4 linked regions of the Homo sapiens genome follow. The protein of the gene in region 2 interacts with the protein of the main gene of each other region in a pairwise test. Each region holds a gene or a part of one and is shown on either strand. Other genes may lie near its edges.

Evidence for each region. Proteins that work in one complex are often made in the same cells at the same time.
Region 1: the proteins of MECP2 (region 2) and AP2B1 interact in binary tests that used the Homo sapiens proteins (3 or more experiments, as listed by UniProt).
Region 3: the proteins of MECP2 (region 2) and DDX20 interact in binary tests that used the Homo sapiens proteins (3 or more experiments, as listed by UniProt).
Region 4: the proteins of MECP2 (region 2) and DEAF1 interact in binary tests that used the Homo sapiens proteins (3 or more experiments, as listed by UniProt).

What each region holds. Positions count from the first base shown.
Region 1 is NC_000017.11:35,604,322-35,607,821, forward strand, and holds part of AP2B1 (AP-2 complex subunit beta), read left to right. Parts: intron 1-1,383; coding exon 1,384-1,519; intron 1,520-3,500. UniProt on the Homo sapiens protein: Component of the adaptor protein complex 2 (AP-2). Adaptor protein complexes function in protein transport via transport vesicles in different membrane traffic pathways.
Region 2 is NC_000023.11:154,091,218-154,094,717, forward strand, and holds part of MECP2 (methyl-CpG-binding protein 2), read right to left. Parts: exon of another isoform or gene 3,161-3,500; intron 2,333-3,160; exon of another isoform or gene 993-2,332; coding exon of another isoform or gene 967-992; intron 1-966. UniProt on the Homo sapiens protein: Chromosomal protein that binds to methylated DNA. It can bind specifically to a single methyl-CpG pair. It is not influenced by sequences flanking the methyl-CpGs.
Region 3 is NC_000001.11:111,754,615-111,758,700, reverse strand, and holds the start of DDX20 (probable ATP-dependent RNA helicase DDX20), read right to left. Parts: upstream 2,801-4,086; 5' UTR 2,777-2,800; coding exon 2,476-2,776; intron 2,056-2,475; coding exon 1,961-2,055; intron 1-1,960.
Region 4 is NC_000011.10:688,723-692,222, forward strand, and holds part of DEAF1 (deformed epidermal autoregulatory factor 1 homolog), read right to left. Parts: intron 2,877-3,500; coding exon 2,779-2,876; intron 1-2,778. UniProt on the Homo sapiens protein: Transcription factor that binds to sequence with multiple copies of 5'-TTC[CG]G-3' present in its own promoter and that of the HNRPA2B1 gene. Down-regulates transcription of these genes.

The DNA.
Region 1 (3,500 bases), on a different chromosome or scaffold from region 2:
TGGTCTCACACTCCTAGGCTCAAGCAGTCCTCCCACCATGGCCTCGCAAAGTGCTTGGATTACAGACGTGAGCCACTGGGCCTGGCTTTTTTGTTTTTGTTTTTGTGTGTTTTTTTGAATGTGATAAAGGTAGTGGAAAAAAAAAAAGACACTTGCCTGTGCGTGGTGGCTCACATCTGTAATCCCAGAACTTTGGGAGGCCAAGGCAGGTGGATCACCTGAGGTCAGGAGTTCGGGACTAGCCTGGCTAACATGGTGAAACCCCATCTCTACTAAAAATATAAAAATTAGCCGGGAGTGGTGGCGCACGCCTGTAATCTCAGCTACTTAGGAGGCTGACACATTAGAATTGCTTGAACTGGGGAGGCAGTGGTTGCAGGAAGCAAAGATGGTGCCACTGAACTCCAGCCTGGGCGACAGAGTGAGACTCTGTCTCAAAAAGAAAAAAAAGGATTCTTAAGATACACATTAAAATATTATAGATGAAGCTGGGCACAGTGGCTTATGCATGTAATCCCAGCACTAGGATTAACATTTTTTCATAATAAAAAGCTTTTTCTAAAACTATAGAGACCTTGTTGAGAACAGCACTACAATTTTTTTCTTGTTTTTTTTGGATGGGGACAAGGTCTCACTCTGTCATCCAGGCTAGAGTGCAGTGACGTGATCATGGCTCACTGCAGTCTCGACCTCCTGCTTCAGCCTTCTGAGTAGCTAAGACTACAGGTGTGCACCACCACACCTAGCTTTTTAAAACAAATTTTTGTAGAGAGGATCTCGCCATGTTGTCCAGGCTGGCCTTGAACACCTGGTCTCAAGTGAATCCTTACACCCCAGCCTCCCAAAGTTCTGAGATTGCATACCTGAGCCACCATGTCTGGCCTACAGTTTCTTTTCTTTTCTTTTCTCTTTTCTTTTCTTTTTTTTTTTCCTTTTTTTTTTAGACACAGGAGTCTCGCTCTTGTTGCCCAGGCTGGAGTGCAATGGTGTGATCTCAGCTCACCGCAAACTCTGCCTCCCAGGTTCAAACGATTCTCCTGTCTCAGCCTCCTGAGTAGCTGGGATTACAGACATGCACCACCATGCCTGGCTAATTTTTTGTATTTTTAGTAGAGACGGGGTTTCTCCATGTTGGTCAGGCTAGTCTCAAACTCCCGACCTCAGGTGATCCGCCTGCCTTGGCCTCCCAGAGTGCTGGGATTATAGGCGTGAGCCACCGTGCCCAGCCAGTTTCTTTAGTAATTCATTTCTGTGACAGTTACCACTGTGGGGACATTTGTTCTTGCATCAAATCACTGTTAGTTAAGGCTATTCATGTTCTGTCCAACAGCTTGGCACCAACACCTGCTTACTTTCCTTTTCTCTTTTACCCTCTCTTCTCAGTTCTCTCTTTCCAGACGTAGTGAACTGTATGCAGACTGACAATCTGGAACTAAAGAAGCTTGTGTATCTCTACTTGATGAACTACGCCAAGAGTCAGCCAGACATGGCCATCATGGCTGTAAACAGCTTTGTGAAGGTAACTTTTCCCAAGGCCTCAATAACAGAGTTTGAATTGCAAATAAGTAACCTCTGTTCACAAGGAAGGAGTGTAGGGAAGTGTTGGCAATGACTAGGAATGTTCATGTTTTAAGCATTCTGTATACCAGTGTGTGTCATCCAGGGAAATTCAAACCATGTGCTGAGCTTTCTGTTAGTGGGGCTTGGTGCATCCTTGCCAGATGGGTAGAAGAAAACCTGGTGAAACCCCACTGTTTTACCTTCTGAGGCTGACAAAGGTGGGCATATCATTGTACTATCAGTAATTGGGGGCTTTACCTATTTTATCTTTGTAGAAATTATACTTATGAGTCAGCAGTAGTGGAGACTGCCGGAGTTTCTACTTTCATTTCATTTAATACGTCTTACATCATTTGATTAATTTTTTTTTTTTTTTGATACAGAGTCTCACTCTGTCACCGAGGCTGGAGTGCAGTGGCACGATCTTGGCTCACTGCAACCTCTGCCTCCCAGGTTCAAGTGATTCTCCTGCCTCAGTCTCCCAAGTAGCTGGGATTACAGGTGACCGTCACCATGCCCAGCTTATTTTTGTATTTTTAGTAGAGACAGGGTTTCACCATGTTGGTCAGGCTGATCTCGTGCTCCTAACTTCAAGTGATCCACCCACCTCAGCCTCACAAAGTGCTGGGGTTACGGACACAAGCCACCACTCCCGGCGTGATTAATTTTTTTTAATGGAAAATTTTAAACATATTCAAGAAAAAGGACTAGTATAATAAATTCCTAAATATCCGTCTTGCAGTTTTAACAGTTACCGACACATAACCACTCTTGTTTGTAATCCTCATACATATTTTCTGACCTCCAACCCCCTCTCCTGCTGGATAATTTTAAAGAAATCCTGAACATCATATATTAAATAGTTTTGTCTTTATATTTGTCAAGATAAGATCTTTTATTTAAACATAACCACAATATCATCATGTCTTTAAAAATGGACAAAATATTTTCTTATTATTGAATATCCAGTCAAATCTTTCCTATCATAGATTTAAAGAAAATAATAATGGGATCATTCCCATTAATTTTTTTTTTTTTTTGGTGACAGAATTTCACTCTTGTTGCCCGGGCTGGAGTGCAATGGCGCAATCTCAGCTCACCACAACCTCCGCCTCCCGGGCTCAAGTGATTCTCCTGCCTCATCCTCCCGAGTAGCTGGGATTACAGGCATGCACCACCACACCTGGCTAATTTTGTATATTTAGTAGAGATGGGGTTTCACCATATTGGCCAGGCTGGTCTCGAACTCCTGACCTCAGGTGATCCGCCCACCTTGGCCTCTCAAAGTGCTGGGATTACAGGCGTGAGCCACCATGTCCAGCCTAATATTTTTTTAATAGTTGTTTTTTCTCTGTTTGGAACTTAGTGTACATTTAAAAAAAACAGACAGCATTTCTAAAATTAGCTTCTATTTAAAATGTTTTGAAAAATAAGCAATATGCTTTCTTCTTTCTCATGAACTTTTTGTTCTTTTCCTGTGTTTAGCTACATTATAGAGTCAGAACGTAACAGTTTGTTCTCCATGACTGGTGGTTCATAGAGGGAATATATCATTGGGAAGAATTTAGTTTACATTTTTTGGAAGTTAGAGTTGTGCATAGATTTACATGGGCTTAAAGACATTTTTTTAGTGTAAGGCAGTTTAAAAGAGTGTTCTTTCTCCATATTCTATTTACTATATTTGGAAGCACTTGCTAGTAAAAGAGAATGTATGTTAGCCAAGAGCTCAGAGGGCCTTCTCTGCTGCTTAACTCCAGGTACTTATTTCAAGCCCAGACCAGCTCCTGTGCTCCCCTTTGTTTTCTTGGCTGCAGGCCACAGAAATCTAGCTCTCTTTTCTATTTGATGTTTAGGAACTCACTGTGGAGTAGGGCACGGTCTTTACAGCTCCTCTTTTTTTTTTTTTTTTTTTTCCTGTGCCGGAATACAAGCCCAAAAGC
Region 2 (3,500 bases):
CGGAATCACAATGGCCGCATAAGTGAAAACTCACATTTTTGCTTAGGGGAAAAAAAATGGGAAAATTCAATTGGAACATTCTGCTTTACCACACAGAAGTTCTGAAATCCACATGTCAAAACATCAAATGCGGAGTGACCACTAATCAAAAAGACAAAACAAAACAACAACAACAACAACAACAACAAACAGCTTGAGATGTTGAGCCTGAAGGTTGAGAAATTAAGGAACCATTCATTTTTACAAAACTAAAGTCCACACAATGGTGCCAAGTAGTTCAAACTGCAGCTGATACAGCACCTGAGTGTCAGACCTAGAATGACTGGGGCCCCCAGGTTTTTACAAAGTACTCATCCTCCTCTAGAGTCCCAAGAACCAGATGTATATCTGGGTACTCTCTTTAGTTACCATGGGAGGAGTGTAGCAAGCACATGACATTAGCCATGGCCCCCGGTGTTCTGAGACAGCTTTCAGGAGGGTGTCCTTCTAGGGAACCAACCACATACCAGTTCCCATATCTGAAAATGCATTACCACTGCTCACTAATGTTGACCACTAAGCCATTTACCCCAAACCAAAGCAAACACATGCTGAAGACCGCTAAGGCAACAGCAGCAGCGCAAAAGGGCTCAGTGCAAGCGCTCTCAGCTCAGCTGACCTGCTTCAAGGTGAACTGAAGTTGCAGATCACCAGTTCCGGCTCTAATCTGACGCCCGCCCCCAGATCACGCTGTGGCGACCAAGTAACCCTACACACACTGACCTTTCAGGGCTCAGGGAAGTGACTTTTTTTTATTATATGGCACAGTTTGGCACAGTTATGTCTTTAGTCTTTGGGGTACTTTTATACTGTCCAAGAGTAGTATATTTTTTTCCTCTTTTCCTTTTTTTTTTTTTTTTAAAAAAAAAAAAAACAGATGGCCAAACCAGGACATATACTAAAAAAAAAAAAAGGAAGGTTACTTACCTGAGCCCTAACATCCCAGCTACCATGGAATCCTGTTGGAGCTGGTCTACAGAAGCAAGGTGTATTCTGGGGAGTCACATGTCACATCAAAGCAGGAACTGGTGAGTCTGTATTTTTATGGAGCCTAAAACAAAGAAAATTGTAAGTTGAAAGCCCCCATTGAGCTGCACGACCTTTTTCCCAGGGCTATTTGGGACATTTTGAAGATAAACACATAGACAAAGTACTAGGCTATTTCCCAGCTTACCTAGCTAGAAACAAAGGATAAGCTGCAAATTACTGGCACGTAACACACAGTGCTAAAATAAAGGAAAGATTCATGCTTGTTAGAATCAACACTATCACAAGCCTTGTCACCTCTAGGGGACACTTCGACACTACAAAAGCATACCATGAGTGGCGATTTCTGGCAAGTATTTCTTCTACCACGGCACACAGAAATTCTCAGGGAAGAATACATGTTCAAGAGAATACGCAACATCAAAATACCATCCCTGAAAGAACACATGGAACCTAGAGGCAGTCTCCCTTCTTTTTCAAGCAGCTGAATGAAGTTGCAATAAGCTGCTGTAACAACATCACATAAAGGGGCTTTAATCCTGAGAGAAAAAATCAGCACCAAGGGAAACCAAGTGCTCTGGGAGACCCAAAGCCATCATCCAAAACATGCAAGTCTATTTCAGGGCAATCAGTTTTAAGCCTCTCAGATCAGTCAATCTCGATGTTCAACAAACTCAGTTATTAGTTTGATAGTTTCTCTTTTTCTTTTGAACACATGTTCAAAAAAGGACTTTTGTCAGTACCTTTTTTGTCATTAAGATAACCATCATTTCCTAGTTAAAGCCTAAACTGCCCCATATGAATTAGCTAATTTCTGATACTATGCTGGCCCAAGAGTAGCACTTTTATAAGCTAAAAACGAAAGCTCAGAGCATACAACTTAGAGACTATTCACACAATTACTCATGTAATCAAACCCAGAAGAAGGGCAACACCAACCAAGTCTTTTACTGGTCTGTTGCTGCTCTACAGCTACCAGGATGGTACCTAAAATTATCTTTTGAGGTTCAGTGAGGCCTCATAATTCCCTTAAACAGTCAAGTCATAGAATACTTTGAAATCCCAGAAGTCAAGTTAATAGTATTACTCGGCTAGCTATATAATAAAAACCAAACTGGTATCCTGGCTAGGAGGCCCTGGAAAAGTCACAACTTCTCAGGGACACAAGTTTTTTTTGTTTGTAAACTGATGGTGCTGGACTAAGAATCCTTCTAGTTCTTAAAGTTTAAGATAATTAACTTAAGATTTCATGTCAAAAAGAAAAGAGCCAGAGGCTGGGTGCGGTGGCTCACGCCTGTAATCCCTGCACTTTGGGAGGCTGAAGCGGGTGGATCACGAGGTCAGGAGTTCAAGACCAGCGTGGCCAAGATGGTGAAACCCCGTCTCGACTAAAAAAAAAAAAAAAAAAAAAAAAAAATACAAAAATTAGCCAGGCGTGGTGGCAGGTGCCTGTAATCCCAGCTACTTGGGAGGCTGAGGCAGAGAACTGCTTGAGCCCGGGAGGCAGAGGTTGCAGTGAGCTGAGATCGTGCCACTGCACTCCAGCATGGGTGACAGAGTGAGACTGTCTCAAAAAAAAAAAAAAAAAAAGAAAGAAAGAAAAGAGAAAATGAGAGCAGTTTATGAAATCTAAAAAAGAAAGTTAATATATATATAAAACACCCCTAGCTCTTGGGCTAGGAAGACAAGTGCATCCTTACTAAGGCTTGGTCCTGTCAACTTCAGAGGCAATAATGAGAGCCCAGACTACAGTGTCTACAGTAACTGCAAAACAGCCACACAGCACAGCGGGAACACATTCACACGCCAGGAGACCCAGCATACATGTGCTTGAAGAAGTTATAAGACTCAGGCTTTATTCTCTAACGAAATGGTCATTCCCCCTTTGATGTGGGGGTGGGGGTGGGGATGCCCTGCCCACCCCCCAATTCCGGCTCCCACTCAGTTATCCCACATACCATACATACCATCAAAGTATTTAAGCAATGGCATGCAAAGCAAGCTTTCGACAGGTTTCTTGCAAGAGAAAGGCAGAAGAGAACAGGTAAAAGCAGAAGAGCACACAGGTAAAAGCAGAAGAGCACAACTTCTACTTAAGCCCAAAGAAGAGGGACCTGTTCACATCTTGTCCTACCCGGAATGATGCACACGCACAGGGGCTTGCCGGGACAGCAGTAGTTTCACTGGAAAGGGCTGGTATGGAGGCACCGAGGACAAGGTCCTTCCATCGCAGCGGTGATAATGCTCTACCCAAGAAAAAAAGATTGCGTCTGCCAGCCACGCAAGACTGGTCTGCAAGGATGTCACCATAGCAGAGGGCAGGGAAAACAAGCAGGTGTCCTGCCACACTCTTTGGGACTGGCCAGTCTAGGAGTGTGCTTTACCCCACGCACTGAAAACACTGGTTACTAGAAATATCAAACATTTCCTGTGATTCTCTCCTCCAAGATAACTCGGGCAGCTTGAGAACAAGC
Region 3 (4,086 bases), on a different chromosome or scaffold from region 2:
ACCTCCTCAAAGGAGGTACTTTGAGCAGAGACCTACGTGAATGGCATAGAGTAGAGCTGGCTATATGACCCCTGGGGAAGCGTTTTCACCAAGAGGAAACAGCAAATGGAAAGGCCATAAGATGGCAGTGTTCTTGGTGTATTTGAGGAAGAAAAAGAAGGCCCACATGACAGAATTCAGGGGAAAGTAAAGGAGGTCAGAGATCTACCTCCAGGGACTAGATCACAAAAGACCTTGAGAGTCATGGTAAAAACTTTGCAATGTAACTACTGGAGGAGGAGAAAACAAAACTTTGTGCTCTTAACTACAAGAAAAAAAAATTGATTTAAAAAAAAAAAAAAAAAAAGGACTAGGAGAAAACATGCCAAAACTGTTAATAGCAGTTTCTCTCTAGGTAGTAAGATTACAGATTTTGTTTTCTGGTACGTCCTAATTTTTCTGAATTTTCCCTATTTCTAAAAATGAATATGTATTACTTTGATACACACACAGAGAATAATGTAATTTTCATAATCCAAAGATCTGAAATTAAAAATATGAATTTGCCGGGCATGGTGGCTCACACTTGTGATCCCAGCATGTTGGGAGGCTGAGGCAGGTGGATTACCTGAGGTCAGGAGTTTGAGACCAGCCTGGCCGACATGGCGAAACACCGTCTCTACTAAAAATACAAAAAAATTAGCCGGGCGTGTGGTGTGCACACTTGTAATCCCAGCTACTCGGGAGGCTGAGGCAGGAGAATCACTTGAACCTGGGAGGCAGAGGTTGCAGTGAGCCAAGATTGTGCCACTGACTCCAGCCTGGGCAACAGAGTGAGACTCGGTCTCAAAAAAAAATGAGTTGATGAAACTTTTCCAGGATTTCAGCATTTTATCTGCTGCCAAATTGTCAGAAGCCAAAATCTCAAATACATCTTAGTCTACAATTAGACTAACTCAGGTTCTTGGGAAGTAGGAGGATTTCCAATGTGCAACATCACCTAGGATTTGGTAGACATAAGATGGACTCAAAAAGCTTCCCAGGTGATGAACATGGATATCTGGGTTAAAAACCACTGTTGAAGATTCATCATCAGATATACCAATGCCTGAGAACTTGAAATACAGTCTGCCATAACAACTAAACTACCAAGTAAGGCTATGAGAATCACATCTAATTCATCTTTGAATCCCCAATGCCTGGCACACTGTTTATACGTAATACGGACTCAACAAACCTTTGTTGGAGAAATGATCCCCAAACTCAAATTTCCTGCTAATTTGGGTAAGGCAATCTTAGAAACACTCTAAGACAACCTGGAAGATGGGAGATCAATATGATACATTTACAGAGCTTTAAGAACCACCTGCATACCGGCTGTGGTGGCTCATGCCTGTAATCCCAGTACTTTGGGAGGCAAAGGTGGGAGGATTGCTTGAACCCAGGAGTTCAAGGCTGGTCTGTGCAACACTGGAGACCCCATCTCTACAAAAAATACAAGAACTAGCCAGGTGTGGTGGCACACACCTGTAGTCCCAAATACTTAGGAAGATGGGTGGGAGGATCACTGGAGCCCAGAAGTTCAAGGTTGCAGTGAGCAATGATCCGCCACTGCACTCCAGCCTAGGTGACAAAGCGACACCGTCTCAAAAAAAAAAAACAAACTCTGCAGTTACCAACAATAGCCAGAGCACTACATTACCATGAATCAAGTCAAATGTTAAGTCTCACATTAATCTAGTCAGTAAGTAAAAGAAGAATCCCTGTCTGTATTACCAAGTAGTGACAAAATTGACATATATGGTAGCTTTATTCTATTTAAATAAGGTACGCATAGAAAATTCCAAATTTCGCCACCACCACCACTTAACTCAATCATTCATCAAATTCACTTCCAGCTCTGAGGAGCTACTGGTATTTCATCTGACCTGTGGTAAAGTCCACAAAACACATCCTCCTCTGGTCCTCTCAGCTAACTCACCTGGGTACTTAAGTTTTCAAGAACAAGAGAGTCCAAAGCTATGGTGGAGAACACACAGGTTTTCCCGGTGCCAGATTTAGCTTGAACAATTAAATCTGCGAAGGAAAAAAACAATTATCACTAGCCAGTACTCACTGAAGCAACTTAGGGGCTAACATGGAATCAGAGAACTAGAAGGGTCTCCTGAGATTCCCCTAGTTGGCACCTTCATTTTTAGTTGATTCTCAAAAACGTATGAGAACACGCCTAGTCCCTGAACGTTTACCGTTTATCTTCTCAAACTTAGAACCATTTGTCAGTGCTTAAAAAAAGGTCTTAACTATCCTCAAGTTCAATAGTGCACGTTAGTTTTACAAATAAGTTAACTGAGCGTAGCGCCTAGCCCCCGGCAGGGCCCTGCTCCGGGGGCCGACCGAGGGCTCTTCCTGAGCTGCGGCGCGGGCCTGGCCGCCGCCGCCCGTCGGTCCCCCTTCTCCCACCCCACCCCCCGACCTATCCCGGGCCCCCGCTCTCACCGAGCCCGCAGCGCCCCAACGGGATGGCCTTGAGCTGCACCGGCGAGGGCCTCTCGAAGCCGGCCGCCCGCAGCCCCTCCAGCACCGGCCGCGAAAGCAGCAGTGACTCGAAGTCGGCCGGCTCCGCCAACAGCACATCCCCCGTGCGGGTCCGCGGGCTGCTGAGATCCTGAGCGGTCCGCAGGATCCTCACAGGCCCGGGTGTTGGCTCTGGGGCCGGGACCTGCACGGCCACATGCTCAGCCGGCATAGCAGTCGCCACTGCTGCTAAGGCTCCCGAGGCTTCAAATGCCGCCGCCATGGTAGCCGCGCCGTCAGATCTCGCGGTGCTTAAGGGGAGGCGGGGATCTTGGGAGCGAGAAGAAGAAAAACTTTATTGGCAGTTTTCCCGCGAAGACACTAACACGCCCGGCCTGGAAGTGGAAGAAAGGGACGGGAGTCGGAGGCTGAGAGACTGCCCAGACACACAAAAAATGTGGCCTGAGGAAAGCCCCAAGAGGGAGGAGAGGAAAGATGAGGCAACTGGTGAGTCGCTGCCTGTGGCCTGCAGAGGGCGCCGCGGGCCTGCGGTGGGGGCACCGCCCCGCCTCTCGGCCCTCTTCTGGGCGGAGCCGCCCAGCCGTGCCCCCGGCGCCACCGCCCTCTCGCCGTTCTTTGTGATGCGCCCGGTGCGTCACGCCCCCGTCTCGTGCTTCCGTTTTCCGTTCCGCTGGCCTGTCTCGCTTCGCGGCCACCTCTTCCCCAACGCTACCCGCTCCGTACCCTGACTCGCTGCTCCTCTGTGCTGGCAGAGAGCGCGCAGAACGTAGCTGGACCCAAGGGTTTATTTACCACATTGGCTGGTGTGTCCATCTGCTGTGCAACCACATTTATCTCCGGTGAGATAAACCCCATTTATCTCCTAGCAAGTCCCTGGCGCACAGTGAGCTCTGATAAAAGTACGTTGAATTGGAACCTGGAACTGGACTAACAGCTCCCAAGTTCGTATCTCCGCCTCAGATCTCCTTTTAAACTCTAGACGTGTGCATCCATCTGCCTCCATGCATCCGCCTCCATGCATCCGCCTCCGCATCCGCCTCCATGCATCCGCCTCCGCAGCACCTCCCTTGGGATGCCTAATAGACTCTCAAATGTTACATGCCTTCTGTATTGCTCCTTCCCCCATCATTTCATGCGTAGGCAGCTAGCAGTCTCTGCCACTTTTCCTTGCTGTGGTCTTCTGCTCAAATATCAGCTTTTCAAAGAGGTCTTGAACACCCTAAGACAGCTCTGTCATCCTCTCTGCTCCCTGGCCTTTCCCAGCACTCTCTTGTTTTGCTTTATTTTTTCTTTATGATACTTATACCTACCTGAAATTATATGTCTTCTGCCTGTCTCCCACACTCTATGAGGACAAGAACCTATTCTGTCTTGTTCTCCTCTGCATCCCTAGTGGGAAAAACAATCTGACACATAGGAAATGTTCAATATTTATCAAATGATTGAGCTCCTATAACAAACTCTTAGTCATCATGCCAAATTTAAATATTTCTGGACCTCAGCCATATTCATAATTCCAAATTTAGTTGTGTGGGGTGGCTCGCACCTGTGATTCCAGCTTCTTGGGAGGCT
Region 4 (3,500 bases), on a different chromosome or scaffold from region 2:
CTCCACAAACAAGAAACACCCTCCCTTCCACCTGAGCCGCTCCCACAAGGTCACCGTCTTCATGCAGAGTTTCCAACAGACCGAGTTGGCCGCCACAGACAAGGCCTTGTGCAGGACCGCCCTCCAGACCTCCTTACAGATGGCAACTGGAGACCAGGGCCTCAAAACCACATTTCCACACTGGCTGAAGCTGCTGCAACTGCTGCCTGCTTCCAAAATCAGCCTTCAGGCGGCACAGACCCCGCCACAGGAAGCCAGAGTCTCCATGCCCACACACCACTGCTGGAACTTGAACCCTACCTTGGCCAAGTCATCCGGCAAACTCTGGCCTGCAGGCTCTGTTCACCCCACGGTGGGGCAGACCAGAGACTTCCAGGGGCCTCTCTGAACCCCGTGTTTTGGGTGCCCCAAGGTTTTCATTCTGAATACAAAACCAACCGAGGCAAAGTGAGAAAACAACTGTTTCTTTTTTTCTTTTTCTTTTTTTTTTTTTTTTTTTTTGAGACGGAGACTCGTTCTGTCACCCAGGCTGGAGTGCAGTGGCGCCATCTCGGCTCACTGCAAGCTCCGCCTCCCGGGTTCACGCTATTGTCCTGCCTCAGCCTCCTAAGTAGCTGGGACTACACACGCCCACCACCACACCAGGCTAATTTTTTGCATTTTTTTTTTTAGTAGAGATGGGGTTTCACCGTGTTAGCCAGGATGGTCTCCATCTTCTGACCTCATGATCTGCCCATCTCGGCCTCCCAGAGTGCTGGGATTACAGGCAGGAGCCACCGCGCCCAGCTGACAACTGTTTCCTACATCTGAAAATGTCACTGTCAAATCAGAGCACTTGAGTAGAAGTTTATCATGGAGTGGAGGGACCCCCAACACACATGCCTGACGCCTGGGCTCACACAGGGGGTCCTACTGCTGTGCCTGAGTCACCAAAGACCTGCAGCTCTTCACTGGAGAAAAGGAATGTCTTGTGTTTGTTTAAGAGTCACAGAGTATTTTTCTTAGGAAGGGAACACACAGTTATTTCAGACCGTGCCCCGCTTTGTTGTCAGTTTCCAAACAGGAACACACCAGTCTCTGGTCTTCCTGGCCTGGAGGGGAGAAAACCAGCCTCAGGCACTTGCAGGACACCCCCGCTCCATGACGTCAGCACGTTCCAGGCACCCACAGGTGCCTTGGGCTTCAGCCCCTCCTAGGAAATGAGGAGGTGCCCAGACCCCACTGCCAGGAAGGAGCAGCCTGACTGAAAACACAGATCGCCACGTGGCCATGGGTCAGCTTGTGTGTGTTCTCACACCCACCAGAAATAAGCCAAGTTTCTGGGCTGGGTGCGGTGGCTCATGCCTGTAATCCCAGCACATTGGGAGGCCGAGATGGTAGCTACCTGAGGTCAGGAGTTTGAGACTACCTGGACAACATGGGGAACCCAGGAGGTGGAGGTTGCAGTGAGTTGAGATCACTCCACTGCACTCCAGTTTGGGCAACAGAGAAAGACTCTGTCAAAAAGGAAGGGGAGGGGAGGGGAGAGGAGGGGAGGGGAGGGCAGGGCAGGGGAGGGCAGGGGAGGGCAGGGGAGGGGAGGGGAGGAGAGGGCAGGGGAGGGCAGGGGAGGGGAGGGCAGGGGAGGGGAGGGCAGGGGAGGGGAGGGCAGGGGAGGGGGTTTCCAAGTTTCTTATGTTTTTACTGAAGTCCTTCACAAGTTTTCTGTTTGCTGCCATTCTAACAATAACTGTGCTTTCAGGCCGGGTGTGGTGGCTCACACCTATAATCCTTATAATCCCAGCACTTTGGGAGGTCAAGGCGGGCACCTGAGGTCAGGAGTTTGAGGCCAGCCTGGACAACATGGTGACCTGTCTCTACTAAAAATACAAAAATTAGCCTGGCATGGTGGCACACGCCTGTAATCCCAGCTACTCAGGAGGCTGAGGCACAAGAATGGCTTGAACCCAGGAGGCGGAGGTTGCAATGAGCCGAGATTGCACCACTGCACTCCAGTCTAGGTGACAGAGCAAGACCCCGTCTCAAAAACAAAACAAACAAATAACCACTCTGCTTTCAGGTATATGGAGATGATGTCCCAGGTATGTGACCAAGGCTGAAAAGACTACAAGTAACAGGTGCCAATGGTCCCAGGGAAAATCCCTTTCTGGAGACTGGACCCACCCTGGCATCTGCCACTTGGAAACAAGGTTGCCTGCCCTGGTTGACCAGATGTCCCCAGATCGCCGAAGGCCCCACACATAAAACATAAAATAAGCTGATAAAACATGATCACAAAAGGGCTCTGAAGGTGGCACAGACACTATTTGAAATGCAACTGGCTTTCAGCAGTTTTCTAAGTAGACAGCAGTCAGGCGTGGGAGACTGCACCATAAATGCTACGAGAACAGGATATGGGGGAGGGAAACGCCTTGCTTCTTTCAGCTGGCCCTGCAGCTATAGGATAAGGAGCACAGGCAGGGCCGGGCCTCGGGCAGAGGCTGAACTGTGGCCGGACAGCAGCCTGCTGGGAGTCCCTGCCCAACGCAGGCCACAAGCCCATCTGACAGGTGTGGCTCTTCACCTGGCCTTCCGAGGCAGCTTCTACCTCAGCTGTAATTTCTCCCACCTCCAGCACAGCCCGAAGGCCTCTGAGAGCAGAGCGAGCCAGTGCGTCCCTCCCCAGCTCACAGAGCAGACGTTCACACAGCGGGCTGAACCCCGGGAGAGCCTCGGGGAAGCCGGAGGCCCCCAGCGTGGCACCACCCGCCCTGGGCTGTGCCCCTCGGAGCAGCTTACCAGAACATGTCCTGAGATGGATGCCGCGTTCGCCACAGACGTGGTGAAGACATTGTCTGCAGCAGCCCCCACGTTGGCCACTGTCACTGTGGTCACCTCTGCAACAGAAGGAGCCTCATTTAACAAGCAACAAAAGCCAGAATGGACAAAGCGAACAGCCTCGCTCAGGTGCTTCAAACAAAGTGACTCCCCCTCAGGTGTGTGCCCTTGTAACCAGGAAGATCTTAACACTTCCATGAACACGCTCGACCTACATTTCTATTCCATTGTCTAAGTCATTCGGCTCTTCCAGGAAAAAGAGAGGAAATCTATTCTTCCCCAGTAAAGCCTTTTACGTGCAGTAAAAAATGCATACAACAAACCCGCCACCCCAGCCAGCCCCAGCTCTATCAAACCACCACGGGGCTTCTATCTCCTTCTGCGGCACAGCTGTGGGTTCTGCTGGTCAGGTGTGCCCTATGCCTACGAGGAGCTCTCGGCCTCCCCGCAGGTGAGGACACCTCCTGGACCCACTCTTGTAGCTCCATTCCTGCCTCTCCTCCACCGCAGGGGTCAGGCCACCATCGTCAGGTGACCTCGGCCCCATGCTCACAGCCATTGCCCTTGGTCTCTGACCCCTTCCTCCTAAAAAGTACATCTAACCTGCCTATGTCCCTTGGTGCCACCCCACCGCACCCCCTACAACATGGAACTCAGCCCCCTGGCATGCAGACAGGCCCTTC